Linked DNA regions of Homo sapiens. The protein of the gene in region 2 interacts with the protein of the main gene of each other region in a pairwise test. Each region holds a gene or a part of one and is shown on either strand. Other genes may lie near its edges. The genes, in order: IDH3A and SHMT1.

The links.
Region 1: the proteins of SHMT1 (region 2) and IDH3A interact in binary tests that used the Homo sapiens proteins (3 or more experiments, as listed by UniProt).

The regions. Positions count from the first base shown.
Region 1 is NC_000015.10:78,143,795-78,153,394, reverse strand, and holds the start of IDH3A (isocitrate dehydrogenase [NAD] subunit alpha, mitochondrial precursor), read right to left. Parts: upstream 4,034-9,600; 5' UTR 3,992-4,033; coding exon 3,965-3,991; exon of another isoform or gene 3,453-3,964; intron 1-3,452. UniProt on the Homo sapiens protein: Catalytic subunit of the enzyme which catalyzes the decarboxylation of isocitrate (ICT) into alpha-ketoglutarate.
Region 2 is NC_000017.11:18,359,936-18,369,659, reverse strand, and holds the start of SHMT1 (serine hydroxymethyltransferase, cytosolic), read left to right. Parts: upstream 1-6,109; 5' UTR 6,110-6,288; exon of another isoform or gene 6,289-6,311; intron 6,312-9,107; exon of another isoform or gene 9,108-9,246; intron 9,247-9,724. UniProt on the Homo sapiens protein: Interconversion of serine and glycine.

The DNA.
Region 1 (9,600 bases), on a different chromosome or scaffold from region 2:
TGTCCTTTCTCCTCTCCCTGAACAAAAAAGAAGGAAAAGACATTCACACAAAACTCATGTCCTTGTGACAGAAGACCCAACCAACCAGGCTGTGCAACAAAGTGAGACCCTGTCTCTACAAAATTAGCCAGGTATGGTGGTGCACACCAATGGTCTCAGCTACATGGGAGGCTAAGTCGGCTTGAGCTCAGGACTGCTTGAGCCCAGGAGCTTGAGGCTTCTGTGAGCTATGATTATGCCACTGCACTCCAGCCTAGGTAATGGACAAAAAAAAGAAAAAAAGAAAGAAAGAATGAAAAAGACCCGACTCAAACAACTGATTTTAAAATGTAAACCCATCCTACCTGCATATGCTGGGGGCAGCAATGTAAACCCAGGAGTGTAAGGATTTGTGTTTTGTTCACTGTTGTATCTAGTGTCTAGAACAGTCCCTGGCTCATAGAAGGTATTCAATAATTTAAAAAAAAACAAAACAACAATCAAACAAAACTGAGTCCAGCCTCAGTCACATCTCTATCTGAAGAGTTTCCAAGCCAACAAGTAGCCTTAATACTTGCAATGATCTTCTTTAAGGACCAGTCTTTTCCATGTTTGTCATCTCTCTTGCATGATCTTAGAATAAAGCAGTACTGCACCTAAGTCATCACAATGACCCAGAACTTTAAGTAAAATAAAATTTTCCAAAGCACCATTTAAAGGTTACTTCGTGACAAGCAGAGCATAAAAGTGACATGAGGCCGGATGCGGTGGCTCACGCCTGTAATCCCAGCACTTTGGGAGGCTGAGGCAGGCAAATCACCTGAGGTCAGGAGTTCAAGACCAGCCTGACTAACATGGAGAAACCCTGTCTCTACTAAAAATACAAAATTAGCCAGGCGTGGTGGCACATGCCTGTAATCCCAGCTATTCAGGAGGCTGAGGGAGGAGAATCACTTGAACCCAGGAGGCAGAGGTTGCGGTGAGCCAAGATCGCGCCATTGCACTCTAGCCTGGGTGACAAGAGCAAAACTCCATCTCAAAAAAAAAAAAAAAAAAAAGGCCGGGCGCAGTGCCTCACGCTTGTAATCCCAGCACTTTGGGAGGCTGAGGCCGGTGGATCACCTGAGGTCAGGGTTCAAGACCAGCCTGGCCAACATGGTGAAACCCTGTCTCTAATAAAAATACAAAAATCAGCTGGGTGTGATGGTGGGTGCCTGTAATCCCAGCTACTTGGGAGGCTCAGGCAGGAGAATCGCTTGAACCCAGGAGGTGGAGGTTGCAGTGAGCCAAGATCTCACCATTCCACTCCAGCCTGGGCAACAGGAGCAAAACTCTGTCTCAAAAAAAAAAAAAAAAAAAAAAAAAATTGACATGAGTCCTTTCTCCTCTCCCAGCCCAAAAAAGAGGGAAAAGACATTCACACAAAACTAGCTTATGTCTCTGTGACAGAAGACCTGACCAATCAGCCTAGACAACAGAGTGAGACCCTACCTCTACAAAAAAAATTTTAAATGTTAGCCAGGTATGGTGGCACACACCAGTAGTCCCAGCTTCATGGAAGGCTGAGATGGCAGGACTTCTACTTTATAGAATACTCATATGCATATATATATATATATCTCACATCATTTTATTTATATAAAACCTGTAGAGATAGGCATTATTGGCACTTTTCAGATGAGGAAACTGAGGCCAGGTTCATGAAGCCTGGACCAAAACCCTGAACTTTGGACTTCAGGTCGTGGGCCATCTTAATCCACAACTCATTTCCTTTTTAACTTAAAAACATGTAAATAGTGTTGTACATGGGTTCTGAGATGGGTTTTAAAAAAAAAATCTTTTTTTTTTTTGAGACAGAGTCTTGCTGTTACCCAGGTAGGAGCATGATCTCCTCTCACCGCAGCCTCCACCTCCTGGGTTCAAGTGACTCTCCTGCCTCAGCCTCCCGAGTAGCTGGGATTACAGGCGTGCGCCACCACGCCCAGCAAATTTTTGTATTTTTAGTAGAGATGGGGTTTCGCCATGTTGGCCAGGCTGGTCTTGAACTCCCGACCTCAAGTGATCCGCCCACTTTGGCCTCCCAAAGTGCTAGAATTACAGGCATGAGCCACCATGCCTGGCCACAACCTGAAATGGAAACTCAACAGAGGAACTGTCCTGATTGAAACCGGCATCCAGCTCAGCACCTCCACCATCCTGGGGTCAGCCTCTGAGCCACCTTCTGCTCCAATCCCTAAAGTGAGAAGCTGGCCCAGAAGTCAAATGACTCTGCCAAAGGTCACACAGGGAGTGCATGTCAGAGAACCTCATCTTCTGACTCCACAACCCAACACTTTCTGAATACCTACTATGAGGGTTTTTTCATGCAGATCACACTAAAGGCAAAACAGATTTACCAGCACAATCATTATCAAGTGTTGCTTTAGTGCCTCACTGTGAAGGCAAATGTACCTACCAAAGATGAATTGGGTGTTAAATGTAAGTTCAGAGATTAAAGGACTGAGTTCAGTTTTCACAGTGACACAGAAGTTGCTTTACTTTTAGGAGCAAATGTGACATAAGAGTTATCATCACAAGCAAATCTGGGTCTGAAGAGGGTGACAAAGTAGAATCTAGTTATTGAACAAAAAAACCAGTTAATGATGCCCATGAAAACCACTGTCTGTTGGAGACAGATAAACATATTGATAAGAAAGCTTCAGATTTTTGTTTTCCTTCTGTACATACCAAGTGCTTTCACATACATTATTTTATTTAATACTCAAACAATTCTGTGATGTAAGTATAGATATTCACAGATGGGCATATTAAGGCTTAGAGATGTTTAGTAATTTGCTTAGGGTCACACAGCCAATCAGTGGCATTGCTAGGATTTAAATCTGAGACTCCTAAATTCCAGTACAGAGATCTTTTCCTTAAATAACAGTGCATCTCTGGACCTCTCTTTAAACCGAAAAAATGGGAGAAAAGTAGTATCAAACTTACAGAAAAACGTTAAATTGTTTATAGATTTCTAGGGGACCACCCTTTCATAGCAACAGGAGACTTGAGGCCTGATGGCCTGTACCATCATTTGCTATGTGACCTTGGGAAATGGGAACCAAGACACCTAGGTTCCTCTCCCTGCTCTGACACCGACCTCCTGTGTGACCTTGAGCAAATTCTTCTTCAGGCACAGGTTAGTTCCACTGAGAAGCTACGGAACTGCATAGATGATCTGAAACCCTTTCCAGCTCTGGCATCTGAGCTGTCAAGGAGAGCTAAAGCGCTCCAGATTGCAGGATTCCCACCAATGAAAGGTAAAAGGAAGGCTCTGCTGGTCTCTCTCTCCGAAGGTTCAGACGGTAATTCCGAGGTGTAAGATGCCCTATCCTATGAAGGGGAAATAGCTACAAGAGCACTAGAGGTCTGACTGGGAAGAGCGCCAAAGGGAAAACAATCTGATAGGGAAAAGGGCCCCCGGATTCTCTCACCTGGGAAAACCTCCCAAGCTCAACGCCAGTGCCCGTGGCACCTGCGGTTCCCCGGCCAAGGGCCGCGCAGACAGCGGATGAGAGGTGTGGGCAGTGCTGAGGGGATCAGTCCCGCAGCAGGGCCGCAGCCGGGGAAGCGGCCCGGATGGCGGAGCCGGGACAGAGGCTCCCGTGACCTTCCCGGGCTCGGCGCGAAGCCTGGGCTCTGGCCTGGGCGGATGCGGGTGACGGCAGCCGGGTCTCGGCAGGAGCAGGGCCGGCGCCCCCCCGCCTTGACCTTGACGCCGTCCCCGCCTCTGCGCTGCTGACCCGGCCCGGGGCGGCCCATACACTGCGAGCCGGCCACGGAGCGCGGGGCACGGGCGACCAGGACCGGCTCCCAAGCTGTCCCCGCGGGCAGCCACCGCCTCCCTGTCTGGCCCACGCGCCCGCCCACACCCGGCACGCGACCGGCTCTCCTGCCAGCCCTCGCGGCCTGCCTGCCTGCCACACGCCGGCCTGCCAGCGCTCACCTTAGAGATCCACGCGGGCCCAGCCATCGCTTCCCCTCCTGGCTCCGCAGCAACAGCCGCAGCGGCAGTGCGCAAGCGCCCACCCCACGCTCGGAGCCCGCCCCTGCACGGCCACGCCCCCTGAACGCCCCGCCCCCTAGACCGCCTCAGGATTGCTTCGCGCTCGCTCGCTGCCCCGCCCCTGGACATTCCGCTGGCGAATCGCCGGGCTCGTCTCTCTGTGACTGGCCTGGCTGAGCGCCAGGCGAACCCGGAAACTGAGGGGCCGGCATCTCCGGGAAAGCTTCTTCCTCCCCTCCCTGGTTCATTGACTCGCTGTTAAGGTAAGACGTTTGTTCCACACCTACTAGGTGCTGATTAATGTTCTAGGATCTTGGGGATATAGCGCTCCTCATAGAATTTACAATCCCGTGGAGAAAGACACATAATTTTCTTATTCCACAAATTTTGATTTTTTTTTTTTTTTTGAGACCGGGTCTCACTCTGTCGCCCAGGCTGGAGTGCAGTAGCGCGAACAGGTTCACTACAAAGCCTCGACCTCCTGGGATCAAGTAATTACTAAGCCCAGCCCAACTTTGTTTTTTCTTTTCTTTTTCTTTTTTTTTTTTTTTTTTTTTCTCCGTAGAGATGGGGCCTCGCTATGTTGCTCAGGCTGGTCTGGAACTCCAGAGTTCAAGCGATCTGCTTGCCCCAGGCTCACAAAGTGAGCCACTGCGACTGGCCGAATTTTATTTTTTACCAGCTTTATTGAGGTATAATGTATATATAGTAACATTTACTCACTGTAAGTGTACAGTTTGATGATTTTTAGTAAATGTAAACAGTTGCACAACCATCACCACAATCCAGTTTTTGAGCATATGAAAATGTTCCTTGTGTCCGTTTATAGTCAATCCCGCTCCTGTCCTCAATCCCAGGCAACTACTAATCTGTCTATTTAGCTCAACAAATATTTCTGAGGGTCAACTAGACACCAGGCACTGTTTTAAGTGCTGGGGCTTAGTGTCCAGTAGGAAAGACAGGCTTCAATCAAGTGTCACACACATGTCATTAAAACTGTTGCGCCAAGAAGCAAAAGAGCAAGGAGCTATGGCAAGGCAAAATCAGGCAACCTGATTCAAACCTAACCTGGAGGTCAGGGAATGCTTCTCTGAAGAAATAACATCCATACTCACCTTTCCCCTTGTCCTCTCCCTGTCCATCACAAACTCCTGAGTTCCTGCTGATGGCCAGGCCTCTAGCTGGGTGCCAGGGGAGGTCAGGTGTTTAAACCAGGTCTCTGCTACCCTACCCTGGGAAGAGTTCTATCCAGAGAGGAGCTGCCTACCCACCCAGAGAGGTGATGAGTGCAGTAGAGAAGTGATCCCAAGAGCTTTTATGACCTAAATAATAAACTGCAGCTAAGTCTGTGGCCTTGTCAGGAAGGAGGGCTTTTATCAACCCCTTTCCATTGGGCCCCTTCCCCTCATCAGGCCCTGGCAGTCCCATCCTGAAGTGTTCTCCCACAGTTCCTCCATCCCCAATGTCACCCCTGCCCTCCTTCGGGCCAGACCACCTCAGGCCCAGGCTCTTACAACAGCCTCTTCACCTGCCAACCTGCCCTCCCCTTCAGGCACAGCTCTGACCAGGGCTCGCCCCGGCTCTGAAACCTCCTGGCTCTCCCTTGCACTCTCCTCTCACACCACTGTCTTTTTTCAGCCTGATTTCCCACCACTCCTTCCAGCCCCAAAGACCTGGAGCGCCTGCCAACTAGGACTGCTGGCCAGCCCCCAAATGCTTCCCATATTTTACCTCTCCGTGCCTATGGTCGTGCCATTCCCTCAGCCTCAATGCCCTCTTGCCCCACTTCTACTGGCTGAAATTCTAGCTCCTTGTCAAGACTCAGCTTACATGTTGGGAAGTAGTAAAAGTTGTAAAAGCCCCCAAGACCCACGAATGTGTCCCCCTCTCCTTACTCAGAGCCCTCTAGCACTTGGCTCCCACCTCTCCTGGGAAACATCACATTCTCTTCTGCTGTGTGCCATTGAGAAGATAAGCTTTGGGCCAGGCGTGGTGACTCACGCCTGTAATCCCAACACTTTGGGTGGCCGACGCAGGTGGATCACTTGAAGTCAGGAGTTGGAGACCAGCCTGGCCAACATGGCAAAACCCTGTCTCTACTAAAAATACAAAAATTAGTTGGGCGTGTTGGCACATGCCTATAATCCCAGTGACTCAGGAGACTGAGGCATCAGAATCGCTTGAACCCACGAGGCAGAGGTTGCAGTGAGCCGAGATCATGCCACTGCACTCCAGTCTGGGTGACAGAGCGAGACTCTGTCTCAAAAGAGATAGAGAGAAGATATGCCTTAAGTCCAGAGATAATCTTGATGATCTCTTATGACGTTGTTTCTGGAACAGAGACTGGTACACAAGGAATACTTGCTGCTCAGTGATTGTGAAATAAACATTGACTGACTTTGTCCAGTCTTCATTTAATCTTCACAACAACCCTATGAGAAAACTGAAGTACAGCTAGTAAGTGATGATGCTGGCATTCACACTAGGAAGCTTCCTAAGTACTAAGGCAGTTCTCCTAACTGCTGAACTTTCGCTGAGGGCCAGTCCAATCCTACAAAGGCTTCCCAAGCCATTCTCTAGCAAGTGCACTGTGAGAACAAAAAATGAACAAGACCCACTCCTACCCTCCAGATCTAGTGAGGGAGAAACTCAGAAGTCTCAGATGGAAGTTGGGGGGTGATCAAGGAAGATTGCACAATGGAGATGGCATTTGAATCAGTCCTTGAAGAGGTAAAATGTCAGCAGCTGGAGGGACATGCAGGAAACAGAAATGACCTCACCTTGAGCTGAGATCTGTTCCCTGAGTCAGCCCTTGGCTCCAGAAGCCCCAGTCACCATTCCTCGAACATGTTCTAGAGTTCCTCCAAGATGCAGGTCACTCTCCTCTGGAAAAGCCCTTTTTCCTTGTCCCTTGCACTGTGTAGTGCCCAGAGATACCATCAGCAAAGTATGTTTGGACAAGACGGTGGGAAAACTTTGCCACTCAGGAGAAGAATCTAGAAAGTGCACCCTTATCTGTAATAACAAGCACTATCCAATCCAGGTGTGCTTCACTCTAAGGAAAAAAAAAAAGATTTTAAAATCAAGAGGCCAGGTGCGGTGGCTCACTCCTGTAATCGCAGCACTTTGGGAGGCAGAGGTGGGTGGATCGCCTGAGGTCAGGAGTTTGAGACCAGCCTGGCCAATATGGTGAAACCCCATCTCTCCTAAAAGTAACAAAAATTAGCCAGGGGTGGTGGTGTGCATCTGTAGTCCCAGCTACTCAGGACGCTGAGGCAGGAGAATCACTTGAACCTGGGAGGCGGAGATTGCAGTGATCCAAGATCGCACCACTGCACTCCAACCTGGGTGACAGAGCGAGACTCTGTGTCAAATAAATAAATAATAAAATCAAGATAGCAATTTTTAAGTGAATAAATCAGCAAAACAGAATATACATTATTCACATACCAAATGTTTATTTTTTGTTACAAAAGAAATTCATTTCAACAGTTTTCCTACTTTATTTAAAATATTATTTTCATTAAAGATATGATTGGCAAAGGGTTCATCCCTATCTCTAAGTTAGGAAAAGATCCAACAAATTGGTAAAGAAGGTATTAGGACTTTAGTAAATAAATGGGAAAAGGGGACTGGGCGCGGTGGCTCACGCCTGTAATCCCAGCACTTTGGGAGGCAGAGGTGGGTGGATCACGAGGTCCGGAGTTCAAGACCAGCCTGGCCAAGATGGTGAAAGCCTGTCTCTACTAAAAATACAAAAAATTAGCTGGGCGTGGTGGCGGGTACCTGTAATCCCAGCTACAAAGGAGGCTGAGGCAGAGAACTGCTTGAACCTGGGAGGCCGAGGTTGCAGTGAGCCGAGATCGTGCCACTGCACTCCAGCCTGGGCGACAGAGTAAGACTCTGTCTCAAACAAAACAAAACAAAAAACATAGGCCGGGCATGGTGGCTCATTCCTGTAATCCCAGCACTTTTGGAGGCCGAGGCGGGCAGATCACAAGGTCAGGAGGTCAAGACCAGCCTGGTTAACATAGTAAAACCCCCTCTCTACTAAAAATACAAAACTTAGGGAGGCATGGTGGTGCACACCTGTAGTCCCAGCTACTGGGGAGGCTGAGGCAGGAGAATCACTTGAACCTGGGAGGTGGAAGTTGCAGTGAGGCGAGATCACACCACTGCACTCCAGCCTGGGTGACTGAGTAAGACTCCGTCTCGGGAAAAAAAAAAACAAAACAAAACGGGAAAAGGACCTGAATAATCAATTCACAGCCAAATAAACTTTTAAATAAATGTTCAATCTTAACAATAGTCAAATGCATGCAAATTTCTAAAAAAAATTATTTTTATTTAAAAATATTAATAAAATGCAATGCCTTATACCATCCAATTTATGGCGCACTGCTTGGCTGGCCTTATACATTTCCACAATCTCTTTGGAAAACAGTTTAGCAATGTGTCTTAAGAGAGACATTAACTGTTCTTACTCTTTCACCTAGTAAATCCATTCCTGAGAATTAAACTCTTGGGGAAAAAAATCCAGAAAGAAAAAGCCATCAACACAAAGATATTCATTATACAATTATCCTTAATTTTGAAAACTAAAAAGAGAAAAAAGCAGTCTAAATGATTAACAGAAGAAATGGTTATGTAATTTAGGGGAAATGAATGAAGTGGACCATCATGCAGCCTTCAAAAGTGATCAATGGCCTGGCATGGTGGTTCACATCTGCAATCCCAGCACTTTGGGAGGCCGAGGTGATCACTTGAGGCCAGGAGTTGAAGACCAGCCTGGGCAACATAGCAAGACATAGTCTCTACAAAATATAAAAATTTAGCCAGGCATGGTGGCATGTACCTGTAGTCCCAGCCACTTGGGAGGCTGAGGTGGAAGGCTCACTTGAGCCCAGGAGTTAGAGGCTACAGTGAGCCATGATTGCACCACTGCACTCCAGCCTGGATGACAGAGGAAGACCTTATCTCTAAAAATAAAATTAAAAAATAATTTTTTTTTTTGAGATGGAGTCTGGCTCTGTCGCCCAGGCTGGAGTGCAGTGGCGCTGTCTTGGCTCACTGCAAGCTCCGCCTCCTGGGTTCACGCCATTCTCCTGCGTTCATGCCATTCTCCTGCCTCAGCCTCCCAAGTAGCTGGAACTACAGGCGCCCGCCACCATGCTCAGCTAATTTTTTGTATTTTTAGTAGAGACAGGGTTTCACCATGTTAGCCAGGGTGGTCTTGATCTCCTGACCTCGTGATCCGCCTGCCTCGGCCTCCCAAGTGCTGGGATTACAGGCATGAGCGACCGCGCCTGGCCAAAAAAAACATTTTTAAAGTGAGTATTATGAAGACTTTAGCATCTTGATAAATGTTTATGGTTGAATGTTCAGAAAAAAATAAAAATTTAAACTATTATCTATGTTCTCTTATAACTTCTTTTTATATGTGAACAAAGAGTAGAAGGAAACCTGCTCCCTCCCACAGAATTCCCCCACCCAATAAAATTCAACTCCAGCCTTCTAGTTGCTGAGGCCAAAAGCCTGAAGATGAGCTGTTTTCAAAATAGGTTCAGTTTTGGACA
Region 2 (9,724 bases):
GGGCAGCAAAGGTAAGCAGAAAACCTTTTGCTCTGAGAGGCAGGGGTGAGAGACATAAAGTCAGAAGAAAATTGGCCAGGCACGGTGGCTCACGCCTGTAATCCCAGCACTTTGGGAGGCTGAGGCAGGTGGATCATGAGGTCAGGAGTTCAAGACCAGCCTGGCCAACATGGTGAAACCCCGTCTCTACTAAAAATACAAAAAAATTAGCCGGGCGTGGTGGTGGGCGCCTGTAATCCCAGCTACTCGGGAGGCTGAGGCATGATAATTGCTTGAACCTGGGGGGGCAGGGGTTACAGTGAGCCGAGATCGTGCCACTGCACTCCAGCCCGGGTGACAGATCGAGACTTTCTCAAAAAGAAAAAAAGAAAGAAAGAAAATCAAACTAACAGCCACCTGTGTAGTGTAAGTCCAGTGAAATGCTTAGGTGTGTCATATGTTGTTTAACATCTGCTAGGACTCAACATTCCCCGAGGGCACAACCGGGGTCAGTGCAGTGGAATCCTCAGCACTTACAGGAGCCGGCGAGGGAAGAAATGACTACGCCCTTATCAGTGGACACAGACACTCTAAAACATATTTTATTTATGGCTGGGCATAGTGGTTCATGCCTGTAATCCCAGTGCTTTGGGAGGCTGAGACGGGAGGATTGCTTGAGGCCAGGAGCTTGAGACCAGCCTGAGCAACATTGCAAAATCCCATCTCTATCTCTACAGAAAATAAAAAATTAGCCAGGCGTGGTGGTATGTGACTGTAGTCCCAGCTACTTGAGAGGCTGAGGCAGAAGGATCACTTGAGCCCAGGAGTTTGAGACCAGCCTGGGCAACATCGTAGACTCTGTCTCTACAAAAAATTAAATTAAAAAAAATTAGCCAGGCACGGTGGTGCATACCTGTGGTCCCAGCTACTCGGGAGGCCAAGATGGTAGGATTGCTTGAGCCCAGCAGCTTGAGGCTGCGATAAACCATGATTGTGCCACTGCACTCCAGCCTGGGTGACAGAGCAAGACTTTGTCTCAAAAGAAAAAAAAAAGAAAGAAAAACACAAAGACAAAACACTACAAGAGGCAGAAAAAGAATGGAAGACAAAAATACAAAGAAACAAAAGCAACAATTAGAAAACAGTAAAAAAAAAAAGGCAGATATTAATCCAATTATATCAACAATTCCTTTGCATATCAATGGTCCAAATTAACCGATTAAAAGAGAGAGATTGGGCTGGGCGAAGTGGCTCACGCCTGTAATCCCAGCACTTTGGGAGGCCAAGGTGGGCGGATCACGAGGTCAGGAGATTGAGACCATCCTGTCTAACATGGTGAAACCCTGTCTCTACTAAAAATACAAAATATTAGCTGGGCGTGGTGGCGGGCGCCTGTAGTCCCAGCTACTTGGGAGGGTGAGGCAGGAGAAAGGCGTGAACCCAGGAGGCAGAGGTTGCAGTGAGCTGAGATCGTGCCACTGCGCTCCAGCCTGGGCAACAGAGCAAGACTCCATCTCAAAAAAAAAAAAGAAAAAAAGAGAGAGATTGTCAGAGTACAGCAAAAAACAAGATGCAACTATATGCTCCTTGTAAGAACTACACTTTAAAGATGTATATATTAAAAGTAAATGGATAAAGAAAGATCTACTATGCCAACACTAATCAAAAGGAAGCAGGAGTCCCTATATTAATTTCAGACAGTACAGGCTTCAGGGCAAGGAAAGTCATCAGGAACAGGACAGGTGCTGGGTGGCTTCCCAGCACTTTGGGAAGCCAAGGCGGGCAGATCACTTGAGGCCAGGAATTCAAGACAAGCCTGGCCAACATGACAAAACCCTGTCTTTACTAAAAATACAAAAATTAGCTGGGCATGGTTGCACTCGACTGTAATCCCAGCTACTCCTCAGGCTGAGGCACGAGACTCACTTGAGCCTGGGAGGCAGAGGCTGCAGTAAGCTGAGATCATGCCACTGTACTCCAGCCTGGTTGACAGAGACTCTGTCTCAAAAAAAAAAAAAAAAAGAAAGAAAAGAAAAGAAAAAGAAAAAGGAAGGAAGGAAGGAAGGGAAAGAAAAGAAAGTTGTGAGGGATAAGGACAGGTCATTACATAATGATTAAGGAGTCAATGCTCAAAGAAGACATAACAGTCCTTAACATGTATGATCCTGACAACAGAACATCAAAATATGTGACTGAAAAAGTGACAGCGCTGCAAGGAGAAACTATTATAGTTGGCGACTTCAATGTCCCTCTATCAGAAACGGACAGATCCAGCAGGCAGAAAATCTGTAACTCAGTAACACCCTCTGTAACTGGATATAATGGAAACCTATAGACTATTTCATACGATGACAGCAGAAAAAAAAGAAAAGAAAAACGCTTTGGTTTTTCCCGTATCTTAGGCTGGAGAGCAGTGGCACGATCACAGCTCACTGCAGCCTTGAACTCCTGGGCTCAGGAGATCCTCCCCACTCAGCACCCTGACTAGTTGGGAATACAGGTGTGCACTTCCACACCTGGCCAATTTTCTTTCTTTCTTTTTAATTTTTTTCATCATGTAGCACAAAATGTCATAATTTTTTTAATTTTAATTTTTCATAGAGATGGGATCTTGCTATGTTGCCCAGGCTACTCTTGAACTCCTGGCCTCAAGCAATCCTCCTACCTCAGCCTCCCAAAGTTCTAAGATTACAGGTGTGAGCCTGAGTCACCATGCCCAGCCACAAATAAAATATTTTTTAGCTGGGCGCGGTGGCTCACGCCTGTAATCCCAGCACTTTGGGAGGCCAAGGCGTGTGGATCATGAGGTCAGGAGATCGAGACCATCCTGGCCAAAATGGTGAAACCTCATCTCTACTAAAAATACAAAAATTAGCCAGACGTGGTGGTGGGTGCCTGTAGTCCCAGCTACTCAGGAGGCTGAAGCAGGAGAATTGCTTGAACCTGGGAGGCAGAGGTTGCAGTGAGCCAAGATTGTGCCACTGCACTCCAGCCTGGAGACAGAGCAAGACTCCATCTCAAAAAACAAAAAAAAAAAAAAAAAAATTTAAGTATCAGTAGGCCGGGCACAGTAGCTCATGCCTGTAATCCCAGCAGTTTGGGAAGCTGAGGCAGGTGGATCACTTGAGGTCAGGAGTTTGAGACCAGCCTGGCCAACATGGCAAAACCCCGTCTCTACTAAAAATACAAAAAAAAAAAAAAAAAAAAAAAAAAAGCCAGGTGTCATGGTGCATGCCCGTAACCCCAGCTACTCGAGAGGCTGAAGAAGGAGAATCACTTGAACCCAGGAAGCAGAGATTGCAGTGAGCCAAGATCACGCCACTGCACTCCAGCCTGGGCAACAGAGACTCTATCTAAAAAAAATAAAAAAATAAAAAATGAAGCATTCAGTGCTGGAGAAGAAATGGGAAATGGGTATTTCCCTAAATTGTTGCTGGGAGTGTGAATTGTTACAATGCTTGTAGAAAGCAATATGGCAATATTTACTAAAAGCTTGACCCAGAAATCTTACTTTGGATATTAAAAAACTCACGGGTTGGGCACAGTGGCTTATGCCTGTAATCCCACCACTTTGGGAGGCTGAAGCGAGCAGATCATCTGAGGTCAAGAGTTCGAGACCAGCCTGACCAACATAGTGAAACCTCGTCTCTACTAAAAATACAAAAATTAGCAGGGCGTAGTGGCGCACGCCTGTAGTCGCAGCTACTTGGGAGGCTGAGGTGGGAGAACTGCTTGAACCCGGGAGGCGGAAGCTGCAGTGAGCCGAGATCACACTATTGCACCTCAGCCTGGGCAACAGAGAGAGGCTCCGTCTCAAAAAAACAAACAACAGGCCGGGCGCGGTGGCTTGTGCCTGTAATCCCAGCACTTTGGGAAGCCGAGGCAGGTGAATCACGTGAGGTCAGGAGTTCGAGACCAGCCTGGCTGACATGGCGAATCCCTGTCTGTGAGAAAAATACAAAAATTAGCTGTGCACGGCCGGGCGCGGTGGCTCATGCCTGTAATCCCAGCACTTTGGGAGGCCGAGGCAGGCGGATCAGAGGTCAGGAGATCAAGACCATCCTGGCTAACACAGTGAAACCCTGTCTCTACTAAAAATATAAAAAATTAGCCGGACATGGTGGCGGGCGCCTGTAGTCCCAGCTACTCGGGAGGCTGAGGCAGGAGAACGGCGTGAACCTGGGAGGTGGAGATTGCAGTGAGCGAAGATCGAGCCACTGCACTCATGCCTGGGCGACAGAGCGAGACTCCGTCTCAAACAAACAAACAAAAAGAACAATTAGCTGGGCATGGTGGTGCACGCCTGTAGTCCCAGCTACTCGGGAAGCCGATGCAGGAGAATTGCTTGAACCAGAGAGGCAGAGGTTGCAGGGAGCCAAGATCGCATCACTGCACTCCAGCCTGGGTGACAGAGCGAGACTCCATCTCAAATAAATAAATAAATAAAACAAAAACAAAAAACAAAAACACTCACTATGTTGGCCAGGCGCAGTGGCTCTTGCCTGTTATCCCAGCACTTTGGGAGGCCGAGGAGGATGGATCACTTGAGATCAGGAGTTCAAGACCAGCCTAGCCAATATGGTGAAACCCTATCTCTACTAAACATACAAAAATTAGCCGGGTGTGGTGGCTCACGCCTGTAATCCTAGCACTTTGGCAGGCTGAGGCAGGTGGATCACAAGGTCAGGAGATCAAGACCATCCTGGCTAACATGGTGAAACCCTGTCTCTACTGAAAATACAAAAAATTAGCCAGGCGTGGTGGTGGGCTCCTGTAGTCCCAGCTACTCGGGAGGCTGAGGCAGGAGAATGGCATGAACCCAGGAGGCAGAGCTCGCAGTGGGCCTAGATCGCGCCACAGCACTCCAGCCTGGGCAAGAGAGGGAGACTCCGTCTCAAAAATAAAAAAAAATTAGCCAGGCGTGGTGGCGGAGGCCTGTAGTCCCAGCTACTCAGGAGGCTGAAGCAGGAGAATGACGTGAACCCGGGAGGTGGAGCTTGCAGTGAGCCGAGATCGCGCCACTGCACTCCAGCCTGGGCGACAGAGCAAGACTCTGTCTCAAAAAAAAAAAAAAGTTTTTTTTGTATTTTTTGTTTGTTTGTTTTTCGAGATGATGAGGGTCTCACTCTGTTGCCCAGGCTGGAGTACAGAGGCAAGATCATTGCTTACTGCAACCTCTGCCTCCCAGGCTCAAGTGATCCTCCCATTCAGCCCCCCAAGTAGCTGGGACTACAGGCGACTGCCACCACACCCAGCTAATTTTAAAATTATTTGTAGAGACAAGGTTTCACCATTTTGCCCAGGCTGGTCTTGAACTCCTAGGCTCAAGCCATCTGCCTCGGCCTCCCAAAGTGCTGGAATTACAGGGGTGAGCCACTGCGCCCGGTTTTTATCATTCTTATAATAATTATTGTTATCATTTGACAAATAAAAAAATTTATGACGCAGCCTCAGGTGGTCCTGACATGTGGCCCCGGTTTTTATCATTCTTAACAATAGGTAATGTTCATTGAGTCCTTATTGTGTGTCAGTATTTTATTTATCTTATTTTATTCTTCTTGAGACGTTGTCTCGCTCCGTCCCCCAGGCTGGAGTGCAGTGGCGCGATCTCGACTCACTGCAACCTCCGCCTCCTGGGAGGCAACATAGTTAGACCCCCATCTCTACTTCAACCTGGGGGACAGAGTGAGACCCTGTCTCAAAAAAATAAAAATAAAAAATAACAAAAATAATAATAATAAAGTGTCTGCTCTTGGATTATACACCTACAGAGTAATAATGTTGCAGTTTGGACGCACATTTGTCCTACTTTAAATGACCACCCTGCAAACTAAAAGTAGTACCATGAACAAAATTCACTCATAATCCCACGGCCCAAGCGACAGGCTTAAGTGAGGAAGGCCCTGTGTAGTCTTCCTGGAAATCTTGGTCCACACACCAGCCCTGCAGCCAAAGCGGGTCAGTTCTGCAGGTCCCTGCCCCAGGTGCGCAGCTGCACTACGCGGCCTCCGGCCCGCCCCGGAGAAACAGGCCCTGCCCGCCGCTGCGCCGCAGCCAATAGCGCGGGTGCGTTTGGTGGCGGCCCATGCTTGGCTGCGCTCTCTGATTGGGCGCCTCCGGGGGCGGGGCCAAGCCCAAGCCTGGCGCGCAGAGTGCACCTTCCTGAGCTCGAGCGGTCCAGCGCCAAGTTCGGGGTTTGGGGTTGGAGCGGCTGGTCACGTGGCTGGCCCGCGGCGGTGCGCGGGGCGTTGGGTCAGCGGGTCTGGGACTGGTGGCACCGGCGGCGGCGTAGGACGGAGGCGTCGCTAGGTACGTGCGCGGGCCGTGTTCCGGTAGGTGGGCGGCTTCGGGTCCGAGGGCCGCGGCGTCCCAGAGCCCGGGGGGTGCTTCGGCGTCCTCGCTGTCCCCCGCCGTACCCCACCCTCTGCAGCCGCAATGACGGGAGGGGAGCGCTTGGGTCGCGCCTGGGCTGGGGATCGGGCGGCGGCCAGCCGCAGCGCCCCAGTTCCAGGCACATTCGGTATGATGGGGTGGCGGCCCGTGGCCTTTGGCAAGAATGCGAAGGCTTATCGGGGATGTGAGTAGTAGCTCTCCACTGAACACTTTTCTCGTTGAGCATTTTCGATTTAAACAATCCTAGCTCCTTCACAACAAAGCTGCAAGTCAAGTGCTACTGTTTCCCCCATTTTACAGGTGAGGAAGGTGGTGGGGCCCTGAGAAAGGAGGCAACTTAAATGGCAGAGCCCGGAATAGAACCCGGGTTCTCAAAGCCTGCGCCCCTAAAGGCTGCGCGCAGGGTCGCTCCACTTTTGGCCCGTGCCACCAGATCCCTGTGGGGAATGAGCTCTTCCTGTTGCCCGCAATCTGCCACCCCCTGTTCTAGGAGACAAATGTTGCACTGTGAAGTTCTTGGCCCGGTGCCTTGGCTTCGAGATTCCGGGAGTTAAGTGACCCTTGGTCCAGCTGAGGTCAGCACAGATGCGGGCCTTCAATCGGGCAGTTACCCAGAGAATAGACTGGAAACACCAGTTTAGGTTCTTGCAGAAATAACATTGTAGGCCGGGCGCGGTGGCTCATGCCTGTAATCCCAGCATTTTGGGAGGCCGAGGTGGGCGGATCACTTGAGGTTAGTAGTTGGAGACCAGCCTGGCCAACATGGTGAAACCCCGTCTGTACTAAAAATACAAAAAAACCTGGCTGCCCATGGTGGCACACACCTATAATCCCAGCTACTCGGAAGGCTGAGGCAGGAGAATCGCTTGAACCCGGGAGGTGGAGGTTGCAGTGAGCGGAGATCACGCCACTGCACTCCAGCCTGAGTGACAGAGTGAGACTCTATCTCAAAAGAAAGAAAGAGAGAGAAAGAAAAGAAAAAAAAGAAAAGAAATAACGTAAATTTATTACTTGGGGGAACTTGGAACGGAAGTGGGTAATTGTGTTTTTATTTAGTGCAATGTCCTGGGACAAGGCCTTGGAACTGAAGAGAAACCATTGTTCAGATTCTGGCTCTTATATGGCTTTAGACAAGTTAGCTCCCTGGGCCTCAATTTCCTCTTCTGTAAAGAAGAGAACACAAAATGTGTGTGAGATAGAAGATGTGCAACAAGTTAGTTCCCTGAGCAGATCCTTGGCTGGATCCTCTTATGTGACAGAGGCCCAGGTAAGATTTGGAGGCATGGGGAGGCTGGTGACCTTGCAGGTGACTTCACTTACTAGGTCTTTTTCCCTGACGTTGAGGATCATGCCACACATGAGCAACAGTGCCTCTACAGAAATATCCAATGTTGTAATGACTGATGTTGCAGTGAGCTGTGTTGGCTGGGGGACTTACCAGGTATTACTGAATGTTAATGAAGATGTCCCTAAGATTCCCAATTTTCTTTTTTTTTTTTTTTGAGACGGAGTCTCACTCTGTTGCCCAGGCCGGAGAGCAGTGGCGCGATCTCGGCTCACTGCAAGCTCCGCCTCCCGGGTTCACGCCATTCTCCTGCCTCAGCCTCCTGAGTAGCTGGGACTACAGGCGCCGCCACCACGCCCAGCTAATTTTTTTTTATTTTTGTAGAGACGGGGTTTCACCATGTTAGCCAGGATGGTCTCGATCTCCTGACCTCGTGATCTGCCCGCCTCGGCCTCCCAAAGTGCTGGGATTACAGATGTGAGCCACTGCACCCAGCCCCCTTTTTTCTTTTTTGTTTTTTTTTTTGAAACGGAGTCTAGCTCTGTCACCCAGGCTGGAGTGCAGTGGCATGATCTCGGTCCACTGCAATCTCTACCTCACTGGTTCAAGCTATTCTCCTGGTCTCAGCCTGCTGAGTAGCTGGGATTACAGGCATATGCCACCATGCCTGGCTAATTTTTGTTTTTGTTTTTTTTTTTTTTTTTGAGACAGAGTCTTGCTCTGTTGTCCAGGCTGGAGTGCGGTGGCACGATCTCAGCTCACTGCAACCTCCTGGGTTCAAGCGATTATCTTGCCTCAGCCTCCTGAGTAGCTGGGGTTACAGGTGCGCACCACACACCCAGCTCATTTTTGTATTTTTAGTAGAGATGGAGTTTTACCGTGTTGGTCAGGCTGGTCTCGAACTCCTGACCTGGGGTGATGCACCCGCCTTGGCCTCCCAAAGTGCTTGGATTACAGGAATTGAGCCACTGCGCCCAGCTAATTTTTGTATTTTTAGTAGAGATGGGGTTTCACCATATTGGCCAGGCTGGTCTCAAACTCCTGACCTCAAGTGATCCACCCACCTCGGCCTCCCAAAGTGCTGGGATTACAGGCGTCAGCCACCGCGCCTGACCGCTTTTTTTTCTTTCTTTAGAGAGACGGGGTCTCCCTATGTTGCCCAGGGTGGTCTTGACTCTTGTGGTCCTGTGACTCCCCAGACTTCAGGTGTGCAAGCCTGATTTCTGACCCTTGGCCAGTCACACTTTCTCCTTTGTCTGGCCTTTGAACTTGGGGTGCTCTGCACTTGTTTACTCTGCGTAGATTGCTCTCATCCCAGATTTCATGGTTGGCTCCTTTCCACAGCTCAGATTTCAGCTCCGGGACGTTCCCTGACCCAGTCTAAAGTAGCCTTGCACCCATTTATTGCATCTTTCTTTCTTTTCTTTTCTTTTTTTTTTTTTTGAGACAGGGTCTTGTTCTCTTGGCCAGGCTGGAGTGCTGTGGGAAAATCTGGGCTCACTGCAGCCTCAACCTCCGGGACTCAAGTGATCATCCTGCCTCAGCCACCCAGAGTAGCTGAGAATACAGGCGTGCGCCACCAGGCTCGGGTAATTTTTTGTATTTTTTTTTAGAGACAGGGTTTTGCCATGTTGCCTAGGCTGGTCTTGAACGCCTGGGCTCAAGTGATCTTCTCGTCTCAGCCTCTCAGAGTTCTGGGATTACAAGTGTAAGCAACCATGCCTGGCCTTGTGTATTTCTTTTTGGTTTTTTTTGTGATGGAGTCTTGCTCTGTCACCCAGGCTGGAGTGCAATGGTATGATCTCGGCTCACTGCAACCTCCACCTCCTGGGTTCAAGCGATTTTCCTACCTCAGCCTCCCGCATAGCTGGTATTACAGGGGCCCACCACTATGCCCATCTAATTTTTGTATTTTTTAGTAGAGACGGGGTTTCGCTGTGTTGGCCAGGCTGGTCTCGAACTCCTGACCTCAGGTGATCCGCCCGCCTTGGCCTCCCAAAGTGCTGGGGTTACAGGTGTGAGCCACTGTGCCTGGCCAAATAATTTTTTTTTTTTTTTAAGATAGAG